Linked DNA regions of Homo sapiens: all the other regions are reported to be linked to region 1. Evidence: microRNA targets listed by miRTarBase, many of them from high-throughput screens and not tested one by one. Region 1 holds a microRNA gene; each other region holds the end of a gene's coding sequence.
The links. Region 1 holds the annotated microRNA hsa-miR-4296 (AUGUGGGCUCAGGCUCA, at 2,792-2,808, opposite strand). A microRNA usually pairs through its seed, bases 2 to 8, with sites in the 3' UTR of a target mRNA and lowers its output. Matches are read on the target gene's strand: a 7mer-m8 pairs with bases 2 to 8, a 7mer-A1 pairs with bases 2 to 7 and ends in A, and an 8mer does both.

Region 2: miRTarBase lists ZNF581 as a target of hsa-miR-4296. The part of its 3' UTR that is shown has no 7-base or 8-base seed match.
Region 3: miRTarBase lists RAB5C as a target of hsa-miR-4296. Seed matches in the 3' UTR shown: 8mer at 3,742-3,749.
Region 4: the mRNA of SIAH2 is a reported target of hsa-miR-4296. Seed matches in the 3' UTR shown: 7mer-A1 at 1,722-1,728.

The regions. Positions count from the first base shown.
Region 1 is chr10:125,030,053-125,034,734 of GRCh38, forward strand. MIR4296 (microRNA 4296) reads right to left here and starts at 2,818; the gene lies at 2,731-2,818. The region is part of intron 3 of CTBP2 (C-terminal binding protein 2); the gene reads right to left.
Region 2 is chr19:55,644,296-55,648,977 of GRCh38, forward strand. It overlaps ZNF581 (zinc finger protein 581), which reads left to right. Exons shown (of 2, transcript NM_016535.4): 2 at 258-1,328. The coding sequence starts at 277. The coding sequence ends at 870. CCDC106 (coiled-coil domain containing 106) reads left to right here and starts at 3,917. Exons shown (of 5, transcript NM_001370470.1): 1 at 3,917-4,682. RefSeq lists enhancers at 288-1,253, 937-986, 997-1,046 and silencers at 647-756, 3,993-4,112, 4,143-4,272.
Region 3 is chr17:42,121,441-42,126,122 of GRCh38, forward strand. It overlaps RAB5C (RAB5C, member RAS oncogene family), which reads right to left. Exons shown (of 6, transcript NM_004583.4): 6 at 3,539-4,458. The coding sequence ends at 4,343. HSPB9 (heat shock protein family B (small) member 9) reads left to right here and starts at 1,364. Exons shown (of 1, transcript NM_033194.3): 1 at 1,364-1,912. The coding sequence starts at 1,411. The coding sequence ends at 1,890. RefSeq lists a silencer at 1-43 and an enhancer at 1,679-2,216.
Region 4 is chr3:150,739,080-150,743,761 of GRCh38, reverse strand. SIAH2 (siah E3 ubiquitin protein ligase 2) reads left to right here. Exons shown (of 2, transcript NM_005067.7): 2 at 1,064-2,637. The coding sequence ends at 1,621. Among named protein-coding and RNA genes, the nearest start is that of SIAH2-AS1, 21 kb to the left of the region's middle. RefSeq lists a silencer at 2,816-2,895.

The DNA of each region.
Region 1 (4,682 bases):
GATTTGACAAATATTATGACAGATGTTTTCCTGCGCTAGGTAAAAACACCTGTAACTGGACTCACTTTTCCAAACACTCTGGTTACACAAACACCACACACACACACACACACACACCACACTCCAGTCTTTTAGAAAGGACTGCTTTTCTTAAAAATTCTCATGTTGACTAAAAGTGAGATGGGACCCATTAGAGTAATACATCTCACGGGCTTAATTTTTTAATTCTGCCAAAACCCTCACTATAGAAATTATGTCAAGTAAAAATAAGATGATTGTGTAACATAGCTGTGTCGGGGAGAGAGGCGATGTCCACCCAAAGCCAATTCTGAAGTCCCTGTGCGACACAAGGTGTCAATTAACAACAGAGACCTACAGAGATCCAGACAATTCCAGAGATGGATCCAGACAGTTCCAGAAGAGCTGGGAAGAGAGGCCAGGATGGGGATGATCAGTGGGTACCCTCCGACGGAGCAGTCTTTGGACAAACTGCCAACAAGCATTTCATGTTCCCATTGGAATAATCATGCAGGAAACTGCTTGAAATGAGAGAGAAAACATGACTCTGGGGTCTAATTCTCACTTTTATAGAAAAAGAAGAACAGGTGGGATCAGTGAGTCTGAAGGTTGCAGTAACATGAGGGCCATTTGGCTCAATGGTGTGTCCCTCTTAACTGTGTTGTCACCCGCCCACTTGGTGGGCTGCCAGGTTTGTCTCAAGGCCTTCTCAGGGAATAGCTCATTCTCAGGAGGCAACTTAAGTTCCCAACTGAAGGAACTTAAGGAACAGCTTCCCCAGGGGGGTCCTGCACCTGCCTGGGCTTCCATTCCCTGATCCTGCCTCCACCAACACAAAGGGCCAGGGCAGCTCTGAAGGTGATAGCGGAAATAACATCTCAGGAGGCTCTTCAGCGCCTGCTGCATCCCAGGACGGAGCCACCACAGTGCCCTCTACGTCTCCCACAGCGAGCGCTTCCCTAGGGAGGCTGCAGAAGTTAGCGGGTAACACGGTTTTCTGGCAGACACAGGGCAGAAAAATCGGCCTATGGCATACCCATTTCCTGCTTTTAAATGTGGACAGCCTGTGCTGGATTTTTGTCTGCTTCTGTCAAGTTAAGTGTTGTGGAATTTGTGCCATTAAAAAAGTTTTCTTGGGCCGGGTGCCGTGGCTCATGCCTGTAATCCCAGCACTTTGGGAGACTGAGTGGGGCGGATCACCTGATGTCAGGAGATGGAGACCATCCTGGCCAACATGGCGAAACCCTGTCTCTACTAAAAATACAAAAATTAGCCGGGCGTGGTGGCGGGTGCCTGTAATCCCAGCTACTCGGGAGGCTGAGGCAGGAGAATGGCGTGAACCCGGGAGGTGCAGGTTGCAGTGAGCCGAGACAGAACCATTGCATTCCAGCCTGGGCAACAGAGCAAGACTCCATTTCAAAAAAAAAAAAAAAAAAAAAAAAAGTCTTTCCTCTCATCAACCCCCTACCCCCTGCCCCCGAACGTCCTCAACCCAAAGTAGCCAAGTTGGCTAATCTAACGCAAAGGGTGGGAGGCCACACCAAATGCACTGGTTACATAGCAAACACAAAGTCTGGCTGGGTTTTAAAGCAGCCTTCGTCTAAATCACGCAAGCACACAGCAACAATTAGCAAAACTGCCCAGACATCGTTTCAGGTATCAAAGGGGCTGAGTGCACCGTGCACCCTTGCTTGCACACTGAGTGCTCTCACCAATTTCTGGGCCTGGAGCGCGGAGGCTTGGGCACCCACGCAACGCGCCAAAGGAAGTCAGGAGAGTGACGTCGAGTGTCTGAACCAACCCAGCCTTTTTCAGATTAGCTGCATCCTAAGAAGCCCCAGTCCTCATGTCTCTCAGTATTTAGCCATGGTAAGTGAAAACAAAGGCCTGCACATTGCTTCTGACTCAATTTCTTAACTATATTGTAAAGCTTCCTGGGAACTGCATTATGAAAATTAGACCACTCATTATGGGGTTTCAAAAGAAAAAAAAAAACAAGCCCATTCTCTTGCACTGCCCATTTTGAAAGTGTTGGTGGAGCCAAAGTGTGCAACGGGACCCCAGCTGGGATGCAGGACAGGCCTCACCTTGGACCATGTCAGGATTCCCATTTCTAGCAATGGAACACACTCAACCTCAAGAGGCTGTGCTCAGCTCTGGACAGCACCCGGCACAAGACGCTCCGCACAGTAGGTGCTCAATGAACACCACCCCTTCTGCTCTTTAGCAGCTTTTCCTGCAGATTCCCAAAGTCTCCACCTCACCTCCATGGTGACCCGCCCCATCACACTCCACTGTTTGAGGTCTCCTCGGCTGTCCTGCGATCAGAAGGTCCCAGGATGCCGTCCTTCCTCTGGTTTTGTGAGCAATGCTCCTAATCAGGGCTGGCTCAGCGAGCCCTCCCCCATGAACCTTTCTCAGTCCAATTCTGTCACTTTGTCCTTAGTCCAAAAAACCTGCCACTCCTCAAGATGAGAAAGGCACCCCAAAAATAGTCCAGGGCATGCATGTGCCTGTAGAGACAGGCCAAGGCATGGCCGCTTAGCCCCTGACCTGCGGAGCGGAGCGCACCCCTCCCTCCACAGCACGTGCTCCCTCCATTCATCACGTGCTTTTCATTTTGTTTGACACCCGGGCTGTAAATCAAACTGTCGACTATGACTCAATGGTGATGGACGGCTGGCCTCAAGGGAGTGTACGGTGTGATGGGGAAAAACGACAGAGACATGGACACAGTCCCCAGAAGCCCCTCCCCACAACCACTTCAGCCCTCTGAGCCTGAGCCCACATCAAAGCCCAAACAGCCCCATTTGCAAGCCTGGGCATGGTAGGCACTAAGCTAGGCAAAGCACCCACCGCCCAAATACAAATGGCTGCCTGACAGAGACCTGCTCCACCTGAGCCTGCACACGGACAGTTTCAGCACACGGGCCTTGATGGGACGGTCAGCCTTTCTTAGGATACGAAAGAACTGACTCTCAGCCTCACTCCCAAGTCTCGGATAAATCTGCGTCACCCATCCCAGGTTGCAAATGGGAAGGGAGGAACCCTCCTGGCACAGACATCTCTTCAACCGGAACACGGAAAACAAAACCCTCAGGTGATGAGAAACAGGCTGGAGGGACAGGGAGTGTGGGATCCCACTGTGCCCCAGCGCTGGACACCCAGAATGCTCTCCCCTCTCGGCATCTTCACAGCCCAGCTGGGGTGCTCAGCCAGGCTCCTGCTGGATGTGGAAGGGCTGAGAAAGGCACGTGAGGTCACTCTGTAGATGGAGATGAGACAGAGACAGAGGAACGCCCTCGAGCGCGCACGCCAAGGTGCCTGAGCTTTAGTAGCAAGCGAGCCAAGTGGTAGAAACCAATCAGAGAGGAGTCTCATTTCACAGCTTTAACACTGTACGTTCTGGAAAAGGAGAGAGGGCAAGAAGCCGGCAGCAAAATGTATCTTGGGGTTCTGGTTCACAGTCACCCCAAATACCTGTCAATTAGGTTGAGCTGTGTGAAGCGCGCAGAAGGTTCTCCGCATTCGTGCGGGCTGCTGTCTGCTGCTGTCTGGCTACCCTGGGGCCTCCTCCAAACACGGAGACTACGGATGCACTGTTCCCCCCGCGGCACTCCTTCCCCCTGCCCACCCCAAGCACTGCTCCCCTCAAGGCACTGACTTGGCCTGAAACTAGAGATGCTCTTTTCCCAAAGGTGCCGGGACCAAGAGGACAGGCACTGAGAGTAAAGCCCTGGGCAGCTGGGCCCAGGGGCTCCGGGCCACACTGTGGGAGGTTTCAACTCAATCATCGATGGAGACAGGGCACCACCAACCAGGCGGTGGGAAACAGCGCGATTCACTGTGGTAGGGGCAGGAGCTGAAAACCGCAGCTGCAGAACCAAACTAGAAGACGGTGATGAACCCCCAAACCCCAGCCACAGACTCCAGTTGCACTACACATCCCTGGCCCCCCAAATAAAAGCAAAGTGGCCTTAACATGTTGCTATTAGAAAAAAGTGGTGAGTATGAAGACATCCGCCCATCACCAAACTGACCGGTGCAAAGAGACGCTTATGTTTGTGCTTGAGAAATGAGTAACAACAGAGAAATAAAACACCGAACCTGATTCACAGCTGCAGAACGGGAGGGCAGTCTATGAACCCCATCCCCAGAGTCGGTGGAGGAACAGGTGGGGTGAGGGGTTCCCTGGGGAGGGGTCCCCCACTCTGAGTTTCTCTTAAAGCCGGGGACAGATAAGGCAAAACATGAAACTTTACCCCTTGCAAAGAACCGCACTTTTGTCTGTGAAGCTTTGCCTTGGCTGTTTCCTGAACCTTTACCTTTGCATAAGATTGTTTGGGTATGTTCATTTGTGCTTTGGGGTTTTAAGGCATGTCTAGTTGACTATTGTATATTTACATAGCTAATGTAATTACAGCTAATCACATAATTGCTGGAAATGTGCATAATTGCCTGATCCCAACATATAATTATAATGTATAGCAACATTATGAATCCCATTTTTAAAATCCACATTTTGGGGCTATTTAAAGTTATTTATTAGAACTGTTTGTGGACTACCTATAGGCAGGCTTCAACTCTGTTTCTTTACGAAGCGCTCAAAGTGCTTTAAAAAAACAAACAAAAACAAAACAAGTCCTGATTTTATAATGCATCTG
Region 2 (4,682 bases), not on the chromosome of region 1:
CAGAGGAGGTCAAGAGATCCTGTGAGTACAGTGTATGGTGGAGCACCGAGGCTAGGAGAGGTTTTCCAAGGAGGAAGACCCTGGGGACCTTTTAGGGGGCCACAGACTCCAGCTGTGAGCGGGACTGGAAAAGAGGGACTGAGGGGCAGCAGGATGCAGAGGTCCTGGGCCGGGTATAGGGAGGGAAAAGGATGGAGCCTGTGGTGCTGAGCTGCCCTCTTCTATATAACCTTCTTATCCCATCTCCCATCCACCAGGCCTCAGCCAGCCCTCCGGATGCTGGTGCTGCCATCCCCCTGCCCTCAGCCTCTGGCATTTTCCTCCGTTGAGACCATGGAGGGCCCTCCCCGTCGGACTTGCCGCTCCCCAGAACCTGGACCTTCCTCCTCCATCGGATCTCCCCAGGCTTCATCTCCTCCAAGGCCCAACCACTACCTGCTTATTGACACTCAGGGTGTCCCCTACACAGTGCTGGTGGACGAGGAGTCACAGAGGGAGCCAGGGGCCAGTGGGGCTCCAGGCCAGAAAAAGTGCTACAGCTGCCCCGTGTGCTCAAGGGTCTTCGAGTACATGTCCTACCTTCAGCGACACAGCATCACCCACTCGGAGGTAAAGCCCTTCGAGTGTGACATCTGTGGGAAGGCATTCAAGCGCGCCAGCCACTTGGCACGGCACCATTCCATTCACCTGGCGGGTGGTGGGCGGCCCCACGGCTGCCCGCTCTGCCCTCGCCGCTTCCGGGATGCGGGTGAGCTGGCCCAGCACAGCCGGGTGCACTCTGGGGAACGCCCGTTTCAGTGTCCACACTGCCCTCGCCGCTTTATGGAGCAGAACACACTGCAGAAACACACGCGGTGGAAGCATCCATGAGCCGGGCTGCCGGGTGCCCCAGGTACCACAGGACTTTGCAGGGAGCCTGGACTCCTGTCCAGACACCTGGTGAGAGCCTGAGGCTGGTGTTCAGGGCCCTGGACACAGACACAGAGCAGCCGCATCTCAAAGGCAGAGCCCTGCCTGAAGGAGGAATCCGTGAGTAATCTTCAGGTCCTCCGTGTTCTGGAGCTGAGATGGGAATGAGCCCCTACACAGAATGGAGTCCTCTAGCCTAAAGATATCAGCTGTTCCATGGCAGAGCCTTGACTGGATGGAGGTGGGGAGTGTGGTGTGTAAAGTCTCTGGCCTCATAAAAGGTGGCTGTGGGTCGTCAGGAATCTGCGCCATCTTCCTGGGGCTTCTGCGCTGTTGTTGGGGAAGGGACCCCAGTCCTGCCTTCCACCCCCCAACCAGGCCTGAGACTGATCAAACAATAAACACGTTTCCCACTCTGAGCACTCGAGGTTTGTTTTTAGAGACAGCATCTCAGACCCTCTTTGGTGGCCGTCTAGCAGGGAGACCTCAGCTTGCCTGGCTGGGGAATGGGAAGGTTGGCCTGCCTTGGGGTTATCCCCTCCTCAGCTCCTGAAGACCTGGGTCATCTGGGAAGAATGTTTTTAACTGAAACAATTTTAAAACCACAATCTCCTGTTACAAACACATTTTATATGGCAATAGAGTATACAGATAAGCAAAATACACGTGAACCAAGTTTCCTTTTTTTTTTTTTGAGACGGAGTTTCACTCTTTTTGCCCAGGCTGGAGTCCAATGGCACAATCTCGGATCACCGCAATGCCTCCTGGGTTCAAGCGATTCTCCTGCCTCAGCCTCCCTAGTAGCTGGGATTACAAGCGTGTGCCACCATGCCCAGCTAATTTTGTATTTTTAGTAGAGACGGGGTTTCTCCATGTTGGTCAGGCTGTTCTTGAACTCCCAACCTCAGGTGATTCACCTGCCTCGGCCTCCCAAAGTGCTGGGATTCCAGGTGTGAGCCACAGCGCCTGGCCTCTTTTTTTTTAGACGGAGTTTCGCTCTTGTCACCCAGGCTGGAGTGTAATGGCGTGATCTCAGCTCACTGCAACCTTCACCTCCTGGGTTCAAGCGATTCTCCTGCTTCAGCCTCCCAAGTAGTTGGGGTTACAAGCGTGTGCCACCATGCCCAGCTAATTTTGTACCTTTAGTAGAGATGGGTTTCACCGTGTTTGTCAGGCTGGTCTCGAACTCCTGACCTGAGGTGATCCACACACCTCGGCCTCCCTCAGGGCACTAGGCCTCGAAACAAAAGTTTTTTTTTTTTTTTTCTTTTGAGACGGAGTCTTGCTCTGTCGCCCAGGCTGGAGTGCAGTGGCGCAATCTCGGCTCACTGCAAGCTCCGCCTCCCGAGTTCATGCCATTCTCCTGCCTCAGCCTCCTGAGTAGGTGGGACTACAGGCGCCCGCCACCATGCCTGTCTAATTTTTTGTATTTTTAGTAGAGACAGGGTTTCACTGTGTTAGCCAGGATGGTCTCGATCTCCTGACCTCGTGATCCGCCCCCCTCTGCCTCCCAAAGTGTTGGGATTACAGGCGTGAGCCACTGCGCCCGGCCCACAAAAATTTCTTTACCATAGTTAGCTTTAGTTTGTGCATTTTTTTTTCCATCAACTATTATTATTACTATTTGAGACGGAGTCTCGCTGTGTCGCCCAGGCTGGAGCGTGGTGCGATCTCGGCTCACTGCAACCTCCACCTCCCCGGTTTAAGCGATTCTCCTGCCTCAGCCTCCTGAGTAGCTGGGATTACAGGTGTGCACCACCACGCCCGGCTAAATATTTTTTTAAACTGCTGATTTCATCCTATTCTATTGAATTCTCCACCCATGAACCTGTAGTTTGGAAAAGACCAATCTAGGGCAGATGGCTCCCCCTGGAATTTTTGGACCAGGCTGCAGTTAATCTGTAAAGTGGGGAGGGGAGGATCATGGTCACAGCTTTGCAGGCGGTGCAGACATTTAGATTCTCCCTCCATCGGGTTAAGACCTTGCTCTTATAAGGGCTGGCCACAGTCCAGAGCTTGGATGCTTCTGGTGAACAGGAGAGGCAGGTGGAGCTGAGCCTGAAGCTTAATAAACATCTGCTTATTCATTCATTTTTCTTGCCTATTTTGTGCCAGGCACTGTGCTAGGCCTCATTTGCTCTTCCGACCTGTTTTTTTGGGAGGAAGAACAAATCTTCCGTTCATACTCCCCAGAGTGGGAAAGAGCCTCCCAGAGGCTGCCATCATACCCCACCATCTGACCTCAAATAATACCAGCAGCGCTCCTCTCTTCAGCCCTGACGATGGCCAGGTGCTGGGCTGAGCTTCTGTGTGTCGCATCACTGCATCCTCACAATAAATTTAGAAGGGCTTGTAATTTCCCCATTTTGCAGGTGAGTTAACAGGCTGGGGAGGAGCAGGAACAGTCAGGACTGGAATCTAGCTTTGCTCCAAAGCCAGCTCTTAATTACCAACATGGGGATGGGGGTGGCGTGTTCCTGGCCCTCATTTTCCGGGAGAGGGGTAACTCCCCCGATTTTGGCCCCCACATCCCTGAGAACCTTGGGGTCTGGCTGTAGGAGGTAGGGGAGCTCTGAGGGGTCCGCGCTGGCTAGTTCCTGAGAGAGCGTTAAAAGTAGATTCTCCTTTCGCTCCAACTTTCTCGGTGTCTCAAACACTCTCCTGCCTTCTGGGCCCATTGGGCACACCGCCACCCAATCCGGGGACCCCCGGAGACTCGCCAGCTCTCCAGGATGGGAATTTCGTGATGTTCCCTGCCTGAGCTTCGGGGAGGGCGGGGGAGTGCTGTAAGGGGCTATCGCGCAAGTGCAGACCCTCTGCTTCTGCCGCAAACGGCGGGCCTCACCTGGACCCGGGGACTCTTCAACGAGGGGCGCTAGCCTGGCCCGACTGGGCGAGTCCCCGCGTCCCTGCCCGTTCCGTCGCTCAGTTCCACGACACGCTCCCCTGCCGCCCCGCCTGTTCGCGGGTGGGTGGGCGCTTCCCTCGGCTCCCCGTGACACTTTGCAGACGCTCCCCGGCGCCGGGCATGGGCGCCGCCGCCGTCGGTCCCCGAGCCGGATTCCGCGAGCGGGTGGGTGAGCGCGGGGGGCCTCGGCCCCTCGGACCCCGGGCACCCGCGGGCGGGGGATGGTGGCCGCGTTTGCACCCCCGCCCTAGTGCATGTTCCCGCTGGAATCGTTCCACGACCGCTCCCCCTCCCACCCGCGGGACAAAGGGCGGGGGCGGGGGGGGCGCACCCCCACGCGTGACCTTTCCCCGTACTGCGCACGCGCCCAGCCCCCACCACCGGGGGACGGTCCGCCCGCCCACGCGAGTGCGGGGGAGGGGTGTGGGGGCCCCGAAGGTAGAGGAGGCAGCGCGCACGGGCTGGACCTCCTCCTACCCTGGGAAGTTGGGGCAGTTTCCCCCTGCACCTGCCTCTTCCTTAGGCCTGGCAGTGGCCCGCGATGAGAGAGGGTCCTTCCCCTTCAGGCTAGGTGTCCCTGGTCAGGCGACCCCTTGGGGCACCCAGCAATTTAGGGCTTCAGCTTCCTTTTCCTTCGATACCCAGGAGCCCACGTCCCCAGCTCACTTCTCCCCCAGGACCTAGGCGGCTGGGCCCCCTGCCCCTGACTCCAGGAGCCCAGGAGTTTGAAGCCCAGGCGCGTTTTGCCTCAGTCCTGGGGTCCAGGCTCCCTCCTCCCTCAGACCAGGGGTCCAGGCCAGAAGGTCCCTCCTGTCTCACTTCACCTCCCCCAGGATGGACCCTCCAGTCCATCTGCGTCTCTCCA
Region 3 (4,682 bases), not on the chromosome of region 1:
CCAGCTTCCAGACTTTTCTGTCCTGTCTCTTGGCCCCTGACAGCCAAGTGAGGCCTGAGTGAAGGCCCCACATTGACCCCTCTTCACTTGTAATCTCTTTTAATGGAGTCCGGGAGAGTCACGATGGCTGTCCTCTTGGGGACAAGGAGTCTTGGGGAGAATCGTGGGGTCTGCCTCTTTCACGCGCCTGTCTCCCACTTAACCCCCTCCCCCAACTCCCGCACAGGCCCTGCCCCACGCGGCTCCGGACACGGAATTGCAGCTGCGGTAGAGATGAGATGTAGCAACAGTTCTGCAGTAGTGTGGTGGTGACTTGGGTGTGTTCTCCTCCTGACATTCACCTGCACCTTTTTCTGCGCTTTTCAGTATGTATGTATTTAATAGTATCACTCAACAAAAAGGAGTTTATCAGGCCGGGTGGCTGGCTCACGCGGGAGGAGAGCTTGAGCCCTGCAGGAGTTCGAGACCAGGCTGGGCAACATTGGGAGACCCCCCCCACCAATCTCTACAAAAAAATAAAAAATAAAGTTTATAGGCTGGGCGAGGTGGCTCACGCCTGTAATCTCAGCACTTTGGGAGGCCGAGATGGGAGGATCGCTTGAGCCCAGGAGTTCGAGATTAACCTGGGCAACATAATGATACCCTGTCTCTTAAAAAAAAAAAATTATCAAATAACAGCACCAGAGGCATAGCTGTGGTTATGATGGTCACCAAGAAGGCTACTGACGTGGAGGGTGAGGCGGAGGAGGGCTAGGTCTTTCTCTGTGCACTGGGAGCCACTCTCCTGAAGCCCCAACTGCGTCTTCATCTTTGTGGCCCCAGAGCCCAGACCACAGCCTGCAGCACAGGACGCCCCGGGAAGAATTAATGCAGCCGGAGAGACCAGTCCACCTCCTCGTGTCGCGTGTCCGCGTGGGGTTGTGGGTGGTCAGGGAGAGGTAGGGTGGATGACCCAGGAAGGCCGCCCTCCCCTGGCTCTGTCTAGGAACAATCCTTGCCCCAGGCCTGGTCCTTAGAAGGCAAGACAGCCCCCTTCCAGCTGGGGGATCAATCTGCTGTTGGCTGCGCCAGGGTGCGGCTCCCTCGGGTCTGGCCTGGTCGTGGATCCAGTTCCTTCACAGCTGCGGCCTCCCCGGGTCCATTAACGAAGGTGGGGAAGGGCGGAGAAAGGGTCGGAGTCTGGGAGGAGAGCAGCTGCGGGCGCGCCAGGGCGCTGACAGTCTGGCTCTTGGAGGTAAGATGGGCGTGGCTGATCCCGAACTCCGCCTGCGTTTGCAGAAGCGAAGGGAACCGAGCGAGCGGAGCTGAGCTCGGGTAGGCCGCGCGAGGTCCCTCCTCTCCGGGCGTCCGTGCGCCTAGCTCTGCGCTGGGAGCCTCGCGCCCTTTGACAGCAGTTAGTTGCTGACTCGGATGCAGAGAGTCGGTAACACCTTCTCCAACGAGAGCCGGGTGGCATCCCGGTGTCCCAGCGTGGGCCTTGCTGAACGGAACCGGGTGGCCACAATGCCGGTGCGGCTGCTCAGGGACAGTCCAGCGGCTCAGGAGGACAATGACCATGCCAGAGACGGTTTCCAAATGAAGCTGGATGCCCACGGCTTCGCCCCGGAGGAACTGGTGGTGCAGGTGGATGGCCAATGGCTGATGGTGACCGGACAGCAGCAACTGGACGTCAGGGACCCGGAAAGGGTCAGTTACCGCATGTCACAGAAGGTGCACCGGAAAATGCTCCCGTCCAACCTGAGTCCTACCGCCATGACCTGCTGCCTGACCCCCTCCGGGCAGCTGTGGGTCAGAGGCCAGTGTGTGGCGCTGGCCCTCCCTGAAGCCCAAACAGGACCGTCCCCGAGACTCGGGAGCCTCGGCTCTAAGGCTTCCAACCTGACCCGGTAAACAAACGACGCGATGTGCAGCAGCCTTGGTGTCCGTTGTCTTTTCTGGGGATGGAAGTCAGAGGTAGAGGGACTGGAGGCACAGGAGGCAGGAAAGGCACCCTCAAGGTGGTGGTCCACCAAGAATCAGGCCTCTGCGGGCAGATCACTTGAGGCCAGGAGTTCGAGACCAGCCTGGCCAACATGGTGAAACCCCATCTCTACTAAAAACACAAAAATTAGGCGTGGTGGTGTGTGCTTGTAATCCCAGCTGCTCGGGAGGCTGAGCAAGAGAATCGTTTGAACCTGGGAGGTGGAGGGAGGTTGCAGTGAGCCAAGATCCTGCCACTGCACTCCAGCCTGGGCCACAGAGTGAGACTCTGTCTCAAAAAAAAAAAAAAAAAAAAAAAAAAAAAATGCTGGGCGCGGTGGCTCACGCCTGTAATCCCAGCACTTTGGGAGGCCGAGGCGGGCGAATCACAAGGTCAGGAGATCGAGACCATCCTGGCTAACACGGTAAAACCCCGTCTCTACTAAAAATACAAAAAAATTAGCCGGGCGTGGTGGTGGGCGCCCGTAGTCCCAGCTACTCGGGAGGCTGAGGCAGGAGAATGGCGTGAACCCGGGAGGCAGAGCTTGCAGTGAGCCGAGATCGTGCCACTGCACTCCAGCCTGGGCAATAGAGTGAGACTCCGTTTCAAAAAAAAAAAAAAAAAAAAAAAAAAAAAGCCGACTGTGGTAGCTCACGCCTGTAATCCCAGCACTTTGGGAGGCTGAGGCGGGTGGATCACTTGAGGCCAGGAGTTTGAGACAAGCCTGGCCAACATGGTGAAACCCTGTCTCTACTAAAAATACAAAAATTAGCAGGGCGTGGTGGCGGGTGCCCGTAATTCCAGCTACTTGGGAGGCTAAGGCAGAAGAATCGCTTGAACCCAGGAGGTGGAGGCTGCAGTGAGTTGAGATAGCACCACTGCACTCCAGCCTGGGTAACAGAGACTCCGTCTCAAAAAAAGAAAAAAAAAAAAAAAGGGAATCAGGCCTCTGTGGCCCTGGGAGAAATTGGAGGAGAGTGTGGCCCTAGCTGAGCAGCAGCTCCAACAGGTAGCAGCAGAGAGCTGAGTGCCCAGACCTGATTCCAGAACCAGTAGAGAGCTGGACTGGGGCAACTTGGATGTGGTGTGGGGGGGTGACGTGGACAGAGGTGGTGAGGAAAGCCAGTGGCTACAGTCTTGGCCTTAAGACCAGTCCAGCGTTCCAGGGGCTGTTGGGATTCCTTCCTCTTCAGGAAGAGAGAGGATCCAGACCCTCTCACTGGTAAAGACCAACCAAAAAAAACCCAAAGAGGTTGTTTCTGGTGTTTCAGAGACTAATGATCATCAAATACACACTGCATGTCACCCCAGTATGATCTGGTAGGTGGGGGAGGGGAAGGGAGGTGGAGAAGTGAACACGGGCCCTGAAACTTCAAACTTGGTCAGCCCAGGTCAGCTACCTCATCGGAGCTGCTAACAGTAAGAGCCTCTTTCTCTTGGTTACCATGACCACCAGCATCCCCTCACATTAGAGGGGAAGATTTTGTTTAACAAGATTCAGTGGTTCATTTTAAATCAACTTCAACTACAGAGGGCACTGTCTGATAAACTGCCAGAGAAAGACAAGGAAGACAATTGTGAGGTCGATCGATCGGCTGACTATATTGACAAGATACTGATTGGTTACATGTTGAAGAAAACATACAATACAAAATACAGAAAAAGTTGGTTCCGTCCCCTCCCACTCCCCCCCTTACCCACCCACCCCCAAATACTCATCATCATGATTTGGTCAGAACAGGGCTCAGAGCCAGAGGTTGGGGTGACCGAGGGTGGAGGGGTTGTGGGCAATGGGTTCGTGGCTGTCACAATAATGCTGTGATAATGCTGTGGTTTCCCAGCAGGGAGGTGGGAGCGGGGAGGGGGCTGCAGCCTGATGAGAGCCAGCTGAAGGAAGAGCTGCCTCTCCCTTCCTAAGCCCCTTCCCAAGGTCTGCCCCACCGCCCAAACCAAAGACCACTCCGAACAAAGTGAGGATGTGGATGCTCTTGCTGGGTCCGCTGTTCCGCAGGAGGGAAAGAAAGGGTAGCTGCACTGACCCCACTGTCCCCATATACAAGGGTTGGGGGGCAAGAGCATGTGGCTACTCCCAGCAAGGGAAAATGGGAGAGCAGTAGAAAGGGGAGGAAGTGGGAAGAGCAGAAGATCATATATATTAAAAAAGTGACTTAAGACTTAAAATTGAATTAGTATTTGTACAGAAAGGTGCAGGTGGAATGACTCACTCCGGCCTATGATCAAAATTATATGGAGAAATCATGGTGGACCCCTCCCCCTGCCCCCCCAGTGGTGGCCCGAGTCGTTAAGTGCGATTGGTTAGAGTGGATTCCAGTCGGGTCATTCAGGCGGAGGAGGCGGGGGCAGCGGGCAGGCAAGGGGGGCTCAGTTGCTGCAGCACTGGCTCCGGCTGGCTGGGTTGTTCTCCTGGAGGTCCACACCTCGGTTTCGGCCTGGAGCACCAGTTGCATTCTGGGGCTCGTTCTTGGGAAGCTTCTTAGCTGTTTGGGAGGGGGAAAAGTGCATTTGTTGGGGGTACCCCAATAACTCTCCCAGTTCCACTGGAGCAGATTCTGGCCTTTATACCCAATCAGTGGTAACTCACATATTGAGGGCTTCTGTGTGTCAGGTGCATTCTGATTGTTTTCAGGAAACTGCGGCAAAGTAAGGTTAAATAACTTGCCCAAGACTACAGAGCTAATGAGTGGTAGAGCCAGGATCTGCA
Region 4 (4,682 bases), not on the chromosome of region 1:
ATTAACACTGTCATCCTTGTGAGAGTCTGGAGTAGAAGTTCAGTTCCTCTTGGTGTGGTCTTTTGCCACGGCAGGTATGATTTATCCATTAGGAATGTCATCCCAAGTGCAAGGGAGAAAATGATTTTGTTCTCCTACCCTATTAAGGCAGTGTCTGAGGGGCAGACTGATCATGTCAGCAAACTTGTCTAGTTCTGCTTCCTCCCGGGCCTGTTGTGAGGACCTGACATACCTGACCATGAAATGATGTGCTCTTGAATCTGAGGAAGTGTTGGGGGTCAGCAAGCTTTGAGAGGAGGGTTAGGCCCTTCTCATGTTAACCTCTACTGGCCAGAACCAGACTGACCAGTAGTCTTCTGAGTTAGTTAAGTAGCTCTTGGATGTGATTTCCTTCCACCCAAAAAATATGGGCAAAGCCCCCCAGAGGGAAGGTCAAAAGGATGCAGTGGGGTAATATTTCTAGCTGTATGAAGGGGTCTCCAGGCCTCCGCTGCCCTAGCCTGGTGATGCCAGCAGCAAAGAGCAAGGAACCAAAGGGCAGCCTTCCCCACGGCCTGCCTGCCAGTCACCAGTTTGAGCCAGAAAGCAGTGGAGGGGGACGACAGAATTATACTGTTGTTAATATTGTCTATATGTGAAAACTAATCTTGGGATAATATAATATTCCTTGCCCAACCCCATCCCCACCACCCAAGCAATTGAATTCTTTAAAAAACAGCTTCACAGAAAATATGGGGAAGACCAGCTTTTATAGGGCTTGCTCAACAATTTTGAGATGTGCACAGTAAGAGAACTTTAGTTCTGATCCCTTTGACAGCGGAACAGGGGGCATGGAAAACAGCGTATTTCTGGTTCAGGAAATACCCTTCATTTTATGCATGACAGCATTGATGATGAATAGAGACGGAGACTTTTAGTCTTGAATATTTCACTTGCTTTGAGCAAAAGTAGTTAAGAACACAGTTTAAGCCCAGGAAAATGGAGTAGTTAAGTACTCATAGAGGGTTGAAGCAATAGAAGTTTTGAGAAGGCCCAATGGCTCAATGCATTTCTTTCTTTGCAGTATGCCACCACGGGCTGTTCCCTGACCCTGCACCATACGGAGAAACCAGAACATGAAGACATATGTGAATACCGTCCCTACTCCTGCCCATGTCCTGGTGCTTCCTGCAAGTGGCAGGGGTCCCTGGAAGCTGTGATGTCCCATCTCATGCACGCCCACAAGAGCATTACCACCCTTCAGGGAGAAGACATCGTCTTTCTAGCTACAGACATTAACTTGCCAGGGGCTGTCGACTGGGTGATGATGCAGTCATGTTTTGGCCATCACTTCATGCTGGTGCTGGAGAAACAAGAGAAGTACGAAGGCCACCAGCAGTTTTTTGCCATCGTCCTGCTCATTGGCACCCGCAAGCAAGCCGAGAACTTTGCCTACAGACTGGAGTTGAATGGGAACCGGCGGAGATTGACCTGGGAGGCCACGCCCCGTTCGATTCATGACGGTGTGGCTGCGGCCATCATGAACAGCGACTGCCTTGTTTTCGACACAGCCATAGCACATCTTTTTGCAGATAATGGGAACCTTGGAATCAATGTTACTATTTCTACATGTTGTCCATGATGTGACTTTCGTAAACCTTCAAAATTATTTGGGCATAGTGCTCTATGTTTAATAAAGGTTTTTATAGATGTTTTATTCCATATGTCTTCACAAGTCAGGACCCACAATTACCCGTGTTTTGTTTGAACAGCAGTGTCCCATCTGGCTTCGACCCAACAAAGTTCATTAACCTGGGATGAATGGGGTTGGCCTGTTGGTGATTTGGATGCTGTTCTGTGATCTAAAACAACTCTTATTGAATTGTATTTACTCCCTAAACAACACTTGACAGGCTGTTGCACAGGGCTTCTATAGATCAGTGTGTTAGGAATGGGAGGCCCCTTCCTGCCTGCCTTCCCATATTGGTCCCTTGACATTGACAAAAGCACAGTGACTGTCAGCAGATTCCTTTACTTTTGTTTGTGGGAGGTAGGAATTGTTTTAATGCATTTTAAACAGTGTTTCTGAAATTGGATGGCTGGCTAATAGACACTGAATCACCCGGAGTGCTTATCTTAAAATTGCAGATTTAGGGAGCCTGCCAATTTAACAGTCTCATCAGGTGATTCTTTTCAACAGTAATGTTTGAGAATTACTGGGTTAAATTGTGGGAAAGGGTCCAGATTTTAAAGGTGCTTTAAGGTTGCCCTCTGCCGATACTGTTTGTCTTTCTACTGTTTCATCCCCTAACTTCCCCCAACCCTCAAATTAAAACTAGAACTATAGATCCACATGAACGCACGCCTGAGATTTGGCCACTCACCTATGTTTTGGGTGGATTGCCTAGGAAAGCAAGTCATATGGCCATTGATAGTTCTCATGTAATTAGTTTTGCTCACCACTAGTACAGATGACCCGTTTACACGTGGCTTCCCTCGGAAGCCCTCCTCAACAGTAGCTGGTGTGAAAGACTAAATCAGTAGAGTTGGAAAAGCTTTATAACCGGTGTGTCATATGCTTGCTATTTAAAGCTGTGTGTTGGTTTTGTTTTTCTGCCACATTCACTAGTTTTTTAATAAATATTTTCCAAAAATGGATATTGTGCTTCATTTCCCTAATTGAGTAATGGGTATTTATTGAGCATCTACTGTGTGCAAGTGCAATGAACCTTCGTCACTACATCTGGGGTTGGAACTTTCACTGTTTGTTTCCACTGTGGAAACAGTCATTGGGCCAAGGTCATGGCACGGGTCCATGACAGCACTGGGGTCCGGGCTCATGTGTCTGAACCACTGACTGTCAGTGCTGCAGGTCTCCTCCCAGGGCTGTCGTTTCTATCTGACAGTGCCAGTACCTGTGCAATAAGAGGATTGCTCCAGCTTTACAGAGTCAGAAGGAAGACGCTTGGCCACTGCTGACATCCAGAGTGCTGGCGTTGATCCAAGCTGACCCACTCCCTCAGTCCCAACCCTAAACTCTCAAAAGAATTTAGAGGATTAGGGCCAAATGCTCAGCAAGGATTGAAGGCTGCTTACCTCAGTGTCCCAATTTCTTTCTTTTTTTTTTTTTTTTTTTTTGAGACAGAGGCTGGAGTGCAATGGCACTCACTGCAATCTCTGCCTCTAGGTTCAAACAATTCTCCTGCCTCAGCCTCCCAAGTAAGTGGGACTAGAGGCCTATGCCACCACACCCAGCTAATCTTTGTATTTTTAGTAGAGATGAGGCCAGACTGGTCTCGAACTCCTGACCTCAAGTGATCCACTTGCCTCGGCCTCCCAAAGTGCTGGGATTAAGGCATGAGCCACCACACCCAGCCCTCAGTGTCCCAATTTCATTAGCATACTACCAAATGGAGGTGATGGCTTTGGAGTTGATTTTGTTTTTTAAGTGAGATACAGCGTTGAGTTTTTAGCCAGCACAGGGCTCTGACATTTAAAGAATTGCTAAAGTAACCTCTTCTGTAAAAGTGAAAAACGGTGCCCTACACAAAAGTAGGGGTTTACAACATCTGTGGTGAATGAATAAAAACCACAACTCTTATCACTAAGAAAGTCACATTTCAAGTCCATATACAGAGGAACCTATGAAGGTGAAACTAGGATCCAGGAGCAGATGAACTCTGACCCTCAGGACCAGAGCCAGTCCAGATATGGCCTCCAGGGCCCTCACGGCACCCATGCAAGGTGCAGTGTGCATACACTAGCCAAGCTTGGCAGCATCACTTCATGTCCACGGCTTACCCTCTTACTACGTGTGGTAGAGGAATCAGGACTGATTGGTTAACAGTGCATAAAACGCAAACCTATAAACAAAAGACATAAAGAAGGAGAAAGTGGACACAAGTTATTCCAAAAGCACAAAAAGAGTTTTAGCCCAAAAAGGTAAAGTGATGGGCCAGCAGCCACACAGTGCATTACTGGCAGCACTGGTTCTATAATTCAGGCTTCTTGATTCCCCATTCAAACTTGCTCCTAGAACTTAACAAATGAAAAAGTTGTAAGCAACGCAACTCTGAACTTTTATTTTCCAGAGTTACGTAGTTCCCTTTCATCTCTGTCACTGGAAATCTGTAAACTTAACCTTTACTCTTGACTTTCTTGAAACTGTGCATTTTCTACCAGAAAATAAAAATCCCCAGGTTATTCCGTTTTAACAGGAAGTGAAAACAGCAGAAAAAGATTATGTAAATTAAAATGCCTTTTTATGCAGTTCCAATTGCAAATGCAATTTAAAACATGATGAGTATATTCCTTGACTTGTTGCTTTTAAAAAAAGTGAGAAAAAAAAAGAAAAGTAATGATAGGCATTTGTCAAAACTCATCACGTGGTCCACTTAAGTACCATATTTTAAAAAATAAAATAAGAATATTTTATCTTTCCTGTCCTAGTTCAATATTCTAATTTGGTAATCTGGCGATTAAACGATGGTAGATTAAGCCTGTGTCTTATGACGCATGAGTCATTCTAAAGAAAAAAGGGTTCTCAAAATACCTTGGGAGAAAATGTTAACAGTCATTAATTCTGGGTGCCTAGAACCTGGGTATATGGTATATTATTAATTGCATTGTTCTACGTTTTTAATTTTTTTCAAAAAACCAACCAACCTTGAGATTAGGGGTTCCCAGCGTTCTTGTAAGGAGGA